Linked DNA regions of Homo sapiens. The protein of the gene in region 1 interacts with the protein of each later gene in a pairwise test. Each region holds a gene or a part of one and is shown on either strand. Other genes may lie near its edges.

Evidence for each region.
Region 2: the proteins of GALT (region 1) and UBTD2 interact in binary tests that used the Homo sapiens proteins (3 or more experiments, as listed by UniProt).
Region 3: the proteins of GALT (region 1) and NQO1 interact in binary tests that used the Homo sapiens proteins (3 or more experiments, as listed by UniProt).

What each region holds. Positions count from the first base shown.
Region 1 is NC_000009.12:34,645,261-34,649,474, reverse strand, and holds the start of GALT (galactose-1-phosphate uridylyltransferase), read right to left. Parts: upstream 2,801-4,214; 5' UTR 2,771-2,800; coding exon 2,689-2,770; intron 2,387-2,688; coding exon 2,217-2,386; intron 1,984-2,216; coding exon 1,908-1,983; intron 1,819-1,907; coding exon 1,770-1,818; intron 1,644-1,769; coding exon 1,514-1,643; intron 1,361-1,513; coding exon 1,304-1,360; intron 1,142-1,303; coding exon 1,019-1,141; intron 714-1,018; coding exon 581-713; intron 478-580; coding exon 394-477; intron 66-393; coding exon 1-65. UniProt on the Homo sapiens protein: Plays an important role in galactose metabolism.
Region 2 is NC_000005.10:172,214,128-172,217,774, forward strand, and holds part of UBTD2 (ubiquitin domain-containing protein 2), read right to left. Parts: intron 1-3,647.
Region 3 is NC_000016.10:69,712,963-69,716,609, forward strand, and holds part of NQO1 (NAD(P)H dehydrogenase [quinone] 1), read right to left. Parts: intron 2,116-3,647; coding exon 2,002-2,115; intron 168-2,001; coding exon 66-167; intron 1-65. UniProt on the Homo sapiens protein: Flavin-containing quinone reductase that catalyzes two-electron reduction of quinones to hydroquinones using either NADH or NADPH as electron donors.

The DNA.
Region 1 (4,214 bases):
GTAGTAATGAGCGTGCAGCTGCCAATGGTTCCAGTTGGCCCCAGCCTCTGATCCTGTGGGAGCCCCTGACAGAAAGAAGAGAGACAGTGGGGAGAGAGAGCCCTTTTACAGTTATCCAGGTTAGCACCTACTCCCAAACCCAACCAGGTATCTGAAAACTACATCTCCCAGGATCCCCTGCTTGAGAAGAGCTGGCAGGAGATTAGAAAGCACATTGGAGATGTAGTTTCACCAAGTTTGCTGCTCCACCCTCAGTCCCAGCATCTCTACTCTGGCCACTTCCCCCAGCAACTGTTTCAAGGCTTGCTCCTTTGAGGTTGCAGTTCACTAGGCTGAGCCCCAGGAGCCCAGAAATGGTGTTGGGGCTAAATATAGGTACTTGAAAAGCCTCACCATGCCAGCCCATGGAGTAGGGAAAGGACGTCTCAAAGAGGTTGTCATACTTGGTCAAGAGCTTCTTCATGATGGAGGCTAGATCTGGAATCAGAGCCTGACTCTCAGCCTGGGGTCCAGATGCTGACCCTACTGGGAGCAACCTCCATCCAGTGCCTAGCCCCAGGATCCTACTTGGGAGACTGACCATCACGCTCAGCAGGGGTCAGCTCAGGTAGCCGCCGCACATGCCGACGGGGCAGCAGCAGTGTCTGGTAGGGCCATGTTGCCCAGAAGGGGACCAGTACTAACCAGTGCTCACTGGTTAGGACCAGACGTTCCTAGGAAGACAGAATGGATAGGAAGTCATCAAGGTGACATAGGAGCCGGAGTGTGGTCAGCAAATAGGCAAGGGAAGCAGAAGAAAAGAATGTGCCCAGGATCTGATGTCTTCTCACCACCTCTACCACTAACCACCCGAGTCTAAGTCACCATCATCTTTCCTTTAGATTACTGGATTATTGCTAAGGCCTCCTAGCAAGTCTCTCTCTACTAGTTCACCTCTAGCTTTCTCCTTTACACACCTCTCTCATGGGATAAGAAAGTTAGGGACTCCTTGGGGACACAGGGCTTGGCTCTCTCCCACCTTCCTGAGTAGCTCCTGGCGGCTGTACTCCATTAGCAGGGGCTCTCCATGCTGACTCTTATAGGCCTGCTGAGATCGCTCCTCACGCTGGGCAATATCTGGCAGGAAACTGCTGGCCCATACCTGTCAAGGGGCAAAAGCAGAGAAGAACAGGCAGGTCCTTTACCTCCAAGCCTCCACATCATTGGCATATTTCCTCTGTCCCATCCATTAATCCTGTTCCCATGTCCACAGTGCTGGCTCAGACTCAGCCAAGAAACCCACTGGAGCCCCTGACACCCTTACCTGGCAGTGGGGGTGGGGGTTAGAACAGCCCATCATGGCACCTTTGTTTTCAAAGATCTATCAGATAGGGATACGGAGCTCTGTTAGCCAAAAGACACCAAGTCAACTCCCTCCTGACCACACCCTGTGGAAACAGAAATGTTACTCCCCAGAACCAAAGCTTCATCACCCCCTCCCTGCCCATCCAGGGGAAGGGGCGACCTCACAAACCTGCACCCAAGGGTACTGGGCACCCAGCTCCTCTGTGACTGAGGCCCATGCATCAACAACAGCCCGGATCTCAGGGACCGACATGAGTGGCAGCGTTACATCCGACCAGGGGTGGAAGCACATGACCTTACTGGGTGGTGACGGGAGAAAAGATAACCGAGAGGTAGGGCTTGGCTGTGCTACGGGCAGGGCCGAACCCCAATGCTGAGTCTCCAACTCTGGTTTGAAAGTTGTAAGAGGGGAAATCCATAGTTACCAGACTCCTCGAGCAGACTTTGCTTGGAAAAGGGGATGATCACTGGGTCCTGAGGTAAAGGAGTATCACTCTCTGCAGCAGAAGTCCCTCAAGAGGTCTAGCCACCCTCCTCCCCAGCAGCAGTTGGAGCCAGGTTACCTGGACTGGGGGCATCAGGCTGCAGAGCTGGGAAGTCGTTGTCAAACAGGAAGGTGCTATCGTACTGGGGATTCACCTACCGACAAGGATAGGCTAGAAGCACTCACTGCCCCATACCACCAGTTACCTGGTGGGCTTCAAAGACTGGACAGGCTACAAGGGAGTAGGGAAGGCCCACCCTAGGGGACCAAAAAGCTTGGTGGGATATGACCCAGAAGGAGGTTCACTATCCCTGTGGGTGGAGGACAGTTCTAAGAGGGAACTACTCCCCGTGGCCCAGCCTGCAGATGCAGGGCTCTACAGGCTTACCTCTCCGTTGGCTCGGATGGCCCCAGGACACAGAGGGTTGAGAGGGTCATGGCGGGGCACTGTCTTCAGAAGCTGGGGCTCCACTTGACCCTGCCAGGGCCGCTTCATGCGGTGAGCTGACACCAGCACCCACTCATCCTGCAGCGGGTTGTAGCGGATATGCTGATGGTCTGGGGGCAGACAGTCAAGATCAGTCCTCAGAGCTCTCTAGCTCCCTCTCTCCTGGGTCTCACCCACCAGCAGGCCCAAGCTCGGGAGCGCCCTCTCGGCCCTGTCCCGCTCAGGAGCTAGAGGCCCAGGATTGGACTTTCCCAGCGCCAATTGGCCTGCTGCTCGTACAGGCCTGCAGACTGTACGCCTTGTCGGTCTGGCTCGGGATGAGCGTTCCAACCTTCGGAGGGGACGAAAGCTTCCTAAGGAAGGGGAGGGCTCGGCTCCGCGCCCCAGCGAGTCCCTGCCGCGGTGCAGTTACCGTTTGCCCGGAAGGTTGCTGCTGCGGCGTCCGCCTCTGACGCCTGCTGGCGTTGCTGAGGATCGGTTCCACTGCGCGACATGAGGCCACCGGGGGATCCGCTGGAAAATCTGCAGGGCCGTGCCTCACCTTTCACTTTCTCCGTCCACACCACCCCTCCCCGCGCCGCCCCCGATGATTGGCCAGCCGCCAGCACGTGACTGACTGACTGGGCTGCCCTGCCACCTGGGGGCGGGGCTCAGAACAGCTGTGAACCCTGGGGGCCGACATTGATGATCCTACTTCACCCAGAGCTAGAGCCACTACACTGGAAGAACCTCTGTGAAAGCTGCCTACTGCAGAATCCTTGGGCTCCAGGATGCCTACAGGACTTGCTTGCTGCAATCATTCATTTGATCTTTCATTCAGCAAATATTTACCAAGCATCTAGCATGTGCTAGGCACCTAGGCTGTGTAAAGCATTGGGATGCACATGTCAGGCATGGCCTCTGCCCTGCCTGAGCTTACATTCTAGGGCGAGTAAGGATATGACCCTGGATCAACAGCGCCTCAGTCACCTGCTCAGTGGCTGTAGCGCAGGAGAGGCAAACTTGGTGGGGTCTGTGTGGAGTACTTCACCATAACCATATCCTATCCCCAAAAGCAAAAACAGATTTGGGAAAAAGGGCTAAGTAACCATATTCTCTTTTTCTCTCACTCTTGCTCTCCTTCCTCTCTCTCTCTCTCTCTTTTTCATACACACACCAAGACAGCACAAGAAGTGGGAGGGGTAAAAGGGCTATAAAAAAAAATCTAAAAATGGCCGGGCTCGGTGGCTCACGCCTGTAATCCCAACACTTTGGGAGACCAAGGCAGGCGGATCACAAGGTCAAGAAATTGAGACCATCCTGGCCAACATGGTGAAACCCCGTCTCTAGTAAAAAAAAAAAAAAAAAAAATTAGCTGGTCTTGGTGGCGTGCACCTGTAGTCCCACCTACTCGGGAGGCTGAGGCAGGAGAATCACTTGAACCCAGGAGGCAGAGGTTGCAGTGAGCCGAGATTGTGCCCATGCACTCTAGCCTGGCGACAGAGCAGACTCCGTCACAAAAAAAAAAAAAAAAGTACAAGAAAGTCTAAAAATGTGGAGAGTACAGGACTATCAGAAGCTCCAGCCACCATCTAGGTGGGGCCTAGTGTTTCCTTTACACATCCCCTTCCCTTTTCTAAATTTTCCTTGGATGGGACCAATTGGCTAACACTAGGATAAAATTCAAATTAATTCCTCCCCTGGTACTTTTGTTTGTTTGTTTGTTTGAGAGAGAGTCTCACTCTGCCACCCAGGCTGGAGTGCAGTGGCGTGATCTTGGCTCACTGCAACCTCCACCTCCCAGGTTCAAGCGATTCTCCTGCCTCAGCCTCCAAGTAGCTGGAATTAGAGCTGTGTGCCACCACACTGGGCTAATTTATGTATTTTTAGTAGAGACGGGGTTTCACATGTTGGCCAGGCTGGTCTTGAACTCCTGACTTCAAGTGATCCTCCTGCCTC
Region 2 (3,647 bases), on another chromosome or scaffold:
TCGTTTCCCCAAACTAGAATATGGTATCAGCTTATTATAAATTTGGATAAAAAACCAAAATGTCTACCAAATCCAGAGCACTGAAAAATGGTTATCAATGAACAAATGAGTTAATGAACCGGTATTTGTGTTTAATGTCAATAGGATGAAAATATAAAGCACCTGAAATGAGTCTGGAATGGTCATCAACCCACCACAGGTCCAATCTGGTCTGCCTTCTAAGTTACATAAGATGGGCTGGGGTGATAGCTTAGTTGGAAAGCAGAACACACGTGAATCTTCCCTCTTCTCTGTTTAGCCTCTGTGTATTCACTAATACTATTGTAGAAATGGATCTACTTCAAGCACAGTTGTGATCACTAGCAGTCCCTATACCAGTAACTTCACACTGCCCTTTCCCTTCTGCCCTTCATCCCAGTGAGTCAGGGTTTAGTTTTCAAATCTCTAAAAGGTGAGAGAGAAAAACTCCATGAAGAGTTACAGCTGGATGGTGTATATTCTTACTCATGCTCTGCCAGTGCTCAATCCATAATGCTGGAAGTAAGCTATTTAGATGGTTACAGAAGCTCCCGTATTTCAGTATTTTTAGAAACAGTAATTTGTTTTTTATTTAATATGGAATTTTCTAGTTTATTCTTTTCGGCACTTCTTTCTACAAAATTATAATCTGAGTTGTAAATATGCTCTAGTTTTACATTAAACTAAAAATCAGACTTTCTGTTTCTAGTCTGGCATGCAAAAAACTTAGAAGTCACCACTCCATCCTAACAAGTAAAAGGCTGAGCAAACTGAAAAATCAACAGATATTCTTAATCTGTGGGAGAAGTAAGGTCACAGGGCAAACCACTGCCCCCGAAATAGGAGAGACAGGCAGGGTAATACAGAGCATCACCATTTACCATAGCAGACACCCAGGAGCTGAAATCTCTGTGGAACCAGTGCAGGGTAGGGAAACCTCAAATGTAACCAAGTGAATTGCTAAAGGCTCAGTGTGGACAAGTCTTAGAGAGAAAGCTCCATGGGGACTTGGTGAAGGGTGTCTGGGAAGAGTGATACCTTCCTGAGTTTTACCTTCTGGACCTCTACAACTTCCTCGTAGTGACAGTCAGAATAATTCCCTGGGTTGGAGGAGGGTGCAAAAGGAACCATTTTTAAATATGCCAGAGAATTCTGCCCTCAGAAGAAACTAACTAGAGTCTATCCTGCTGGGGTTTTATCAGAGCCTAACTAATTTGGGAGAAGAGAAATACCCAGCTCTAGCCCCTTCTAGCCATCTTGTCCCACCTAAGGCAGGGACTATGACTGAGAAGCACTGGTCCAGTTCATGATCCAGAGGCAGAGGCTCACAAAAAGACTAAAACCTCCATATTACCGAAGGCCCATTTCACACAGTTCCTGTATATTATGTCCACCTTTCCCAAAAAATTACAAGATGTACCAAAAGGCAAAAAAACAGTTTTTTAGAGCAAGCACAAAACTAGACTCAGATACGGCAGAAGTGTTAGAATGATCAGACTGGGAATTTAAAACATGATTAATATGCTAATGGCTCTAATGGATGAAGCAGACAGCATGTAAGAAGAACAAATGGGAATGTAATAAGAGAGATGGAAATTCTAAAAAGAACCAAAAAGAAATGCTAGAGAACAAAACCACTGTAACAGAAATAAAGAACGCCTTTGATGGGCTTACTGGTAACTGAACACGAATGAGGAAGGAATATCTGAGTTTGATGATATCTCAGTAAAAATCTCTAAAACTGAAAAGCAAAGACAAAAAAGACCAAAAAACCTTGGGAGGTTGAGGCGGGGGTATCACCTCAGGTCAGGAGTTCGAGACCAGCCTGGCCAACATGGCGAAACCCCGTCTCTACTAAAAGTACAAAAATTAGCCGAGCGTGGTGGCAGGCGCTTGTAATAATCCCAGCTACTCAGGAGGCTGAGTCAGGAGAATTGCTTGAACCTGGGAGGCAGAGGTCGCAGTGAGCTGAGATTGCGCCACTGCACTCCAGCCTGGCAACAAGAGCGAGACTGTCTCAAAAAAAACAAAAAACAAATAAACAACAACTACAACAAAAAAGCCCAAAAAACCCCATGAAATCTAAAAACAAAAAACCCCACCACAAAACAGAGTATCCAGAAACTGTGGGACAAACCAAAGTGTAACATACACATGATGGGAACAGCAGAGAAGAACAAGAGAAAGAAACAGGAAAAATATTTGAAATAATTATGACTGAGAATTTTCCAGAGTTAATGTCAGAAAAACTACACACATCTAAGCATATCATTTTCAAACTTCAGGAAATCAAAGATTAAAAAAAAAAACAAACAAAAAACTCCTGGCCAGACATACTGATTCATGCCTATAACTCCAGCACTTTGCGAGGCCAAGGTAGGAGGACTGCTTGAGCCCATGAGTTTGAGGCCAGCTTGGGCAACATAGGGAAACCCCATCTCTACCCAAAAAAAAAAAAAAAAAAAAAAAAAAAAGCCAGAGGGGGGAAAAAACAGCTTACCCACAGAGGAGCAAAGAAAAGAATTAAATGGCTGGGCGCGGTGGCTCATGCCTGTAATCCAGCACTTTGGGAGGCTCTGATGGGCAGATAGCTTGAGATAGCCTGAGCTCAGGAGTTCAAAATCACCCTGAGCAACATAGTGAAACCCTGTCTCTACAAAAAATACAAAAATTAGTTGGGTGTGGTGGTGTGTGCCTGTACTTCCAGCTACTCAGGAGGCTGAGGTGAGGGGATCACTTGAGCCCGGGAGGTCAAGGGTGCAGTGAGCCGAGATTGTGTCACTGTACTCCAGCCTGGGCAACAGAGACAGACCTTGCCTAAAAAAACCACACACACACACAAAACAAAGACAGAATTACATATCCAACTCCAACTTCTCAGAAACCATGCAAGTATACAGTGAAGTGAAATATCTAAAGCATAGAAAAAACCACCAACCTATAATTCTGTATGCTGTGAAATTATCCTTCAAAACTGAAGGAGAGGCAGGGCGTGGTGGCTTATGCCTACAATCCCAGCACTTTGGGAGGCCAAGGTGGGTGGATCACCTGAGGTCAGGAGTTCAAGATCAGCCTGCCTAACACAGTGAAACCCTGTCTGTAGTAAAAATACAAAAAAAAAAAATTAGCCAGGCATGGTGGTGGGTGCTTATAATCCCACCTACTCCGGAGGCTGAGGCAGGAGAATGGCATGAACCCGGGAGGCGGAGCTTGCAGTGAGTCGAGATCGCGCCATTGCACTCCAGCCTGGGCGAAAGTGCGAGACTCTGTCTCAAAAAAAAAAAAAAAAAAGAAAGAAAGAAATAAGCAAAGGTGAAATAAGAACCTTTAAAAAAATTTTTTTTCTTATTTACTTTTAGAGACAGGGTCTTGCTGTCACCTAGACTATAATACACTGGTGTGATCACAGCTCACTGCAGCCTTGAACTCCTTGGCTCAAGGCTATCCCTCCTGCCTTAGTCTCATGAGTAGCTGGAACTACAGGTATACCCCACCATGCCCAGGTAATTTTTGTATTTTTTGGTAGAGGCAGGGTTTTGCCATGTTCATGTTGTCCAGGCTGGTCTCAAACTCCTGGGGGCAAATGATCCGCCTACCTCGCTTGCTGTGATTACAGGTATGAGCCACCA
Region 3 (3,647 bases), on another chromosome or scaffold:
AGCCTAGATGACAGAGTGAGACTCCGTCTCAAAGAAAAAAAAGAAAAGAAAAGAAAATGAGGTACCTGAATTGGCCAGAGAATGACATTCATGTCCCCGTGGATCCCTTGCAGAGAGTACATGGAGCCACTGCCACCAGTGGTGATGGAAAGCACTGCCTTCTTACTCTGCAAAAGAAAAAGCAATAACAAACTTCACTTCCCTCCACATCCCCTTGGTGACAAGAAGTTAATGAAACAGCTCCAGGGAAAAGAACACACAAGTCTGTCCTATTTGCTGTTTATATTACTTCATACTTTGGCTCCCCTGAGCTACATAATATGACTCTGCAGGAGTGCCAGCCTAGATGGTCTACAGACCGGTGGCCTGGGGCAAATGAAGGATTCCAAACCCCCACATGTGGCTTAGGACGAGGCTGTCACCATATCCAAAATCAGTGCTGGCTGCTGGCTGCCTAGGTGGAGTTATTGGTTGTTCTTATCCATCCTCCCACGGGCTAGGCATGGCGTAGGACAAGCTCTTTCATCTGGAAGGTCTCGAAGGGTTCCCTGTGCAGGATTTGGGCCTCCAAAAAATGAAGACAGGCCTTCTTTTGTTTTTATTATGGAAATTTTTAACACATGTAAATGAGAAAATAGTGCTGCATCTATCACTCACCTTCACCTCTCAGTATTCTGCTATTCTAGTTTTAGCTCGACCCATGACCCCCTTTTTCTCTGGAGCGTTTTATTTTATTTTATTATTTCATTTTTTTTTTCCTGTGAGACAGAGTCTGGCTCTGTTGCCCAGGCTGGGGTGCAGTAGCACCATCTCAACCAACTGCAAACTGTCTCCCGGGTTCAAGTGATTCTCCTGCCTCAGCCTCCCAAATAGTTGGGATTACAGGTGCCCACCACCACATCCGGCTAATTTTTTTTTTGTTTTTGTTTTTGATATGGAGGCTCGCTCTGTCACCCAGCCTGGAGTGCAGTGGTGCGATCTCGGCTCACTGCAACCTCTGCCTCCCGGGTTCAAGCAACTATCTTGCCTCAGCCTCCCGAGTACCTGGGACTACAGGCACGTGCCACCGCACCCGGCTAAGTTTTTTTGTATTTTTAGTAGAGACGGGGTTTCGCCGTGTTAGGCAGGATAGTCTTGATCTCCTGACCTTGTGATCCGCCTGCCTCGGCCTCCCAAAGTGCTGGGATTACAGGTATGAGCCACCGTGCTTGGCCTTTTATTTTTTAAGATGGAGTCTTGCTTTGTTGCCCAGGCTGGAGTGCAGTGGCGCGATCTTGGCTCACTGTAACCTCCACCTCCTGGGTTTCAAGCAATTCTCCTGGCTCAGCCTCCTGAGTAGCTGGGATTGTAGATGCCCGCCACCACACCCAGCTAATTTTTGTATTTTTGGTAGAGACGGGGTTTCGCCATGTTGGCCAGACTGGTCTCAAACTCCTGACCTCAGGTGATCTGCCTGCCTCGGCCTCCCAAAGTGCTGAAATTACAGGCGTGAGCCACTGCGCCCGGCCTCTGGAGCATTTTAAAACAAATCCCAAACATCATGTCATTCCATCTGTAAAAACTTGATCATGCGTCTCTCCCGAAGGACCTGGAGCCTAGGCTTAGGATCTAATTGTGCTCAAAACCCTGCATCAGAGCCGGGCACAGTGGCTCACACCGGTAATCACAGCACTTTGGGAGGCTGAGGCGGGTAGATCACCTGAGGTCAGGAGTTCAAGACCAGCCTGACCAACATGGAGAAACCCCGTCTCTACTAGAAATACAAAATTAGCCGGGCATGGTGGCATATGCCTGTAATCCCAGCTACTCGGGAGGCTGAGGCAGGAGAATCGCTTGAACTCAGGAGGTGGAGGTTGCAGTGAGCCGAGATCCCGCCACTGCACTCCAGCCTGGGCAACAAGAGGGAAGCTCCATCTCAAACAAACAAACAAACAAACACCCCTGCATCAGGACAGACCACCCAGAAGCTGGCTGTCAGAGCATTCAGAACCATCCACCTACCCGGAAGGGTCCTTTGTCATACATGGCAGCGTAAGTGTAAGCAAACTCTCCTATGAACACTCGCTCAAACCAGCCTTTCAGAATGGCAGGGACTCCAAACCACTGCAGGGGGAACTGTGGGACAGAAGACATCATTGAGGTAAGACCAGGGGCTCCCCAAGCCCAGAAGGTGGCTCGGAGTGCTGAGCCGCTCCCCATGATGGCACTGTGTGGGAAGCCCCTCTTCACACCTTTCCCATTCCTCCTGGGGAGTTAGCACTTTAAGGAAAGAGATCATTATTGTCCTTGGTCAGCCAACTTGACAGTCTTCTTTTTCCCTGAAAATGCAAATATTGAGTGGGTCCGAGTAAAGCTAGATACACAGAAGACTTGTTGATATGAAACTTGTTTGTATGAAATCACATTTGGCAGCAAAGTCTAAATAGCAAGGATTGCAAACAAGGTTTGCTTCATGCTGTTGCTTCAATCAGTATTTTCCCAAGAGTTTGCTTTAGTAGGTGTGGTATCAACAATATGACTGTTGGCCAGGCGCAGTGGCTCAAGCCTGTAATCCCAGCCCTTTGGGAGGCCAAGGCGGGTGGATCACTTGAGGGCATGAGTTTGAGACCAGCCTGGCCAACATGGTGAAACCTCATCTCTACTAAAAATACCAAAATCAACCGGGCGTGGTGGCGCACGCCTGTAGTCCTAGCTACTCGGGCTGTTGAGGCAGGAGAATCACTTGAACCCGGGAGGTGGAGGTTACAGTGAGCCGAGATCGTGCCACTGCACTCCAGCCTGGGTGACAGAGTGAGACCCCATCGTGGAAAAAAATGTAGGCCTTCTTCATTTTATGACTGTCCCTTGTTATCGTGGATGAAAAATCATATCACTTAGAATAAACAAAATCACTCAAAAATGCAAACTAATAATCAGTGTGATGGCTGAGTGTGGTTGCTCATGCCTATAATCCCAGTATTTTGGGAGGCCAAGGTGGGAGGACCACTTGAGCCCAGGAGTTTGAGACCAGCCTGGGCAACAAAGTGAGACTTTGTCTCTACAAAAAAATTTAAAAATTAGCCTGATGTGATGGTGCACATCTCTAGTCCCAGCTATATGAGAGGCTGAGGCAGGAGGATTGCTTGAGCCCAGGAGTTGGAGGCTGCAGGGAGCTGTGATCACCACTGTATTCCAGCCTGGGTGACAGAGCAAGACTCCATCTCTAAATAATAATAATAATAATAATAATAATCATCATCATCATCAACGTGGCTAGGTGCAGTTGCTCATGCCTTTAATTCTAGCACTTTTGGAGGCCAAGGTGGGTGGATCACTTGAGGTCAGGAATTTGAGACCAGCCTGGCCAACATGGGGAAACCCTGTTTCTACTAAAAATACAAAAAGTCAAGCGTGGTGGTGCATGCCTGTAGTCCCAGCTACTTGGGAGGCTGAGGCAGGAAAATGGCTTGAACCCGGGAGGCGGAGGTTGCAGTGAGCCGAGATTGCACCATTGCACTCCAGCCTGGGCAACAGAGCGAGACTCCATCTCAAAAACAAATAAATAAATAAATAAAATGTTAAAAAATAAAAATTATAATAAATAATAATTAGGGTGACTAAGGTTCATCAGGGACTTCCCATGAGAAAGTCTTGTCTGACCTCTTATC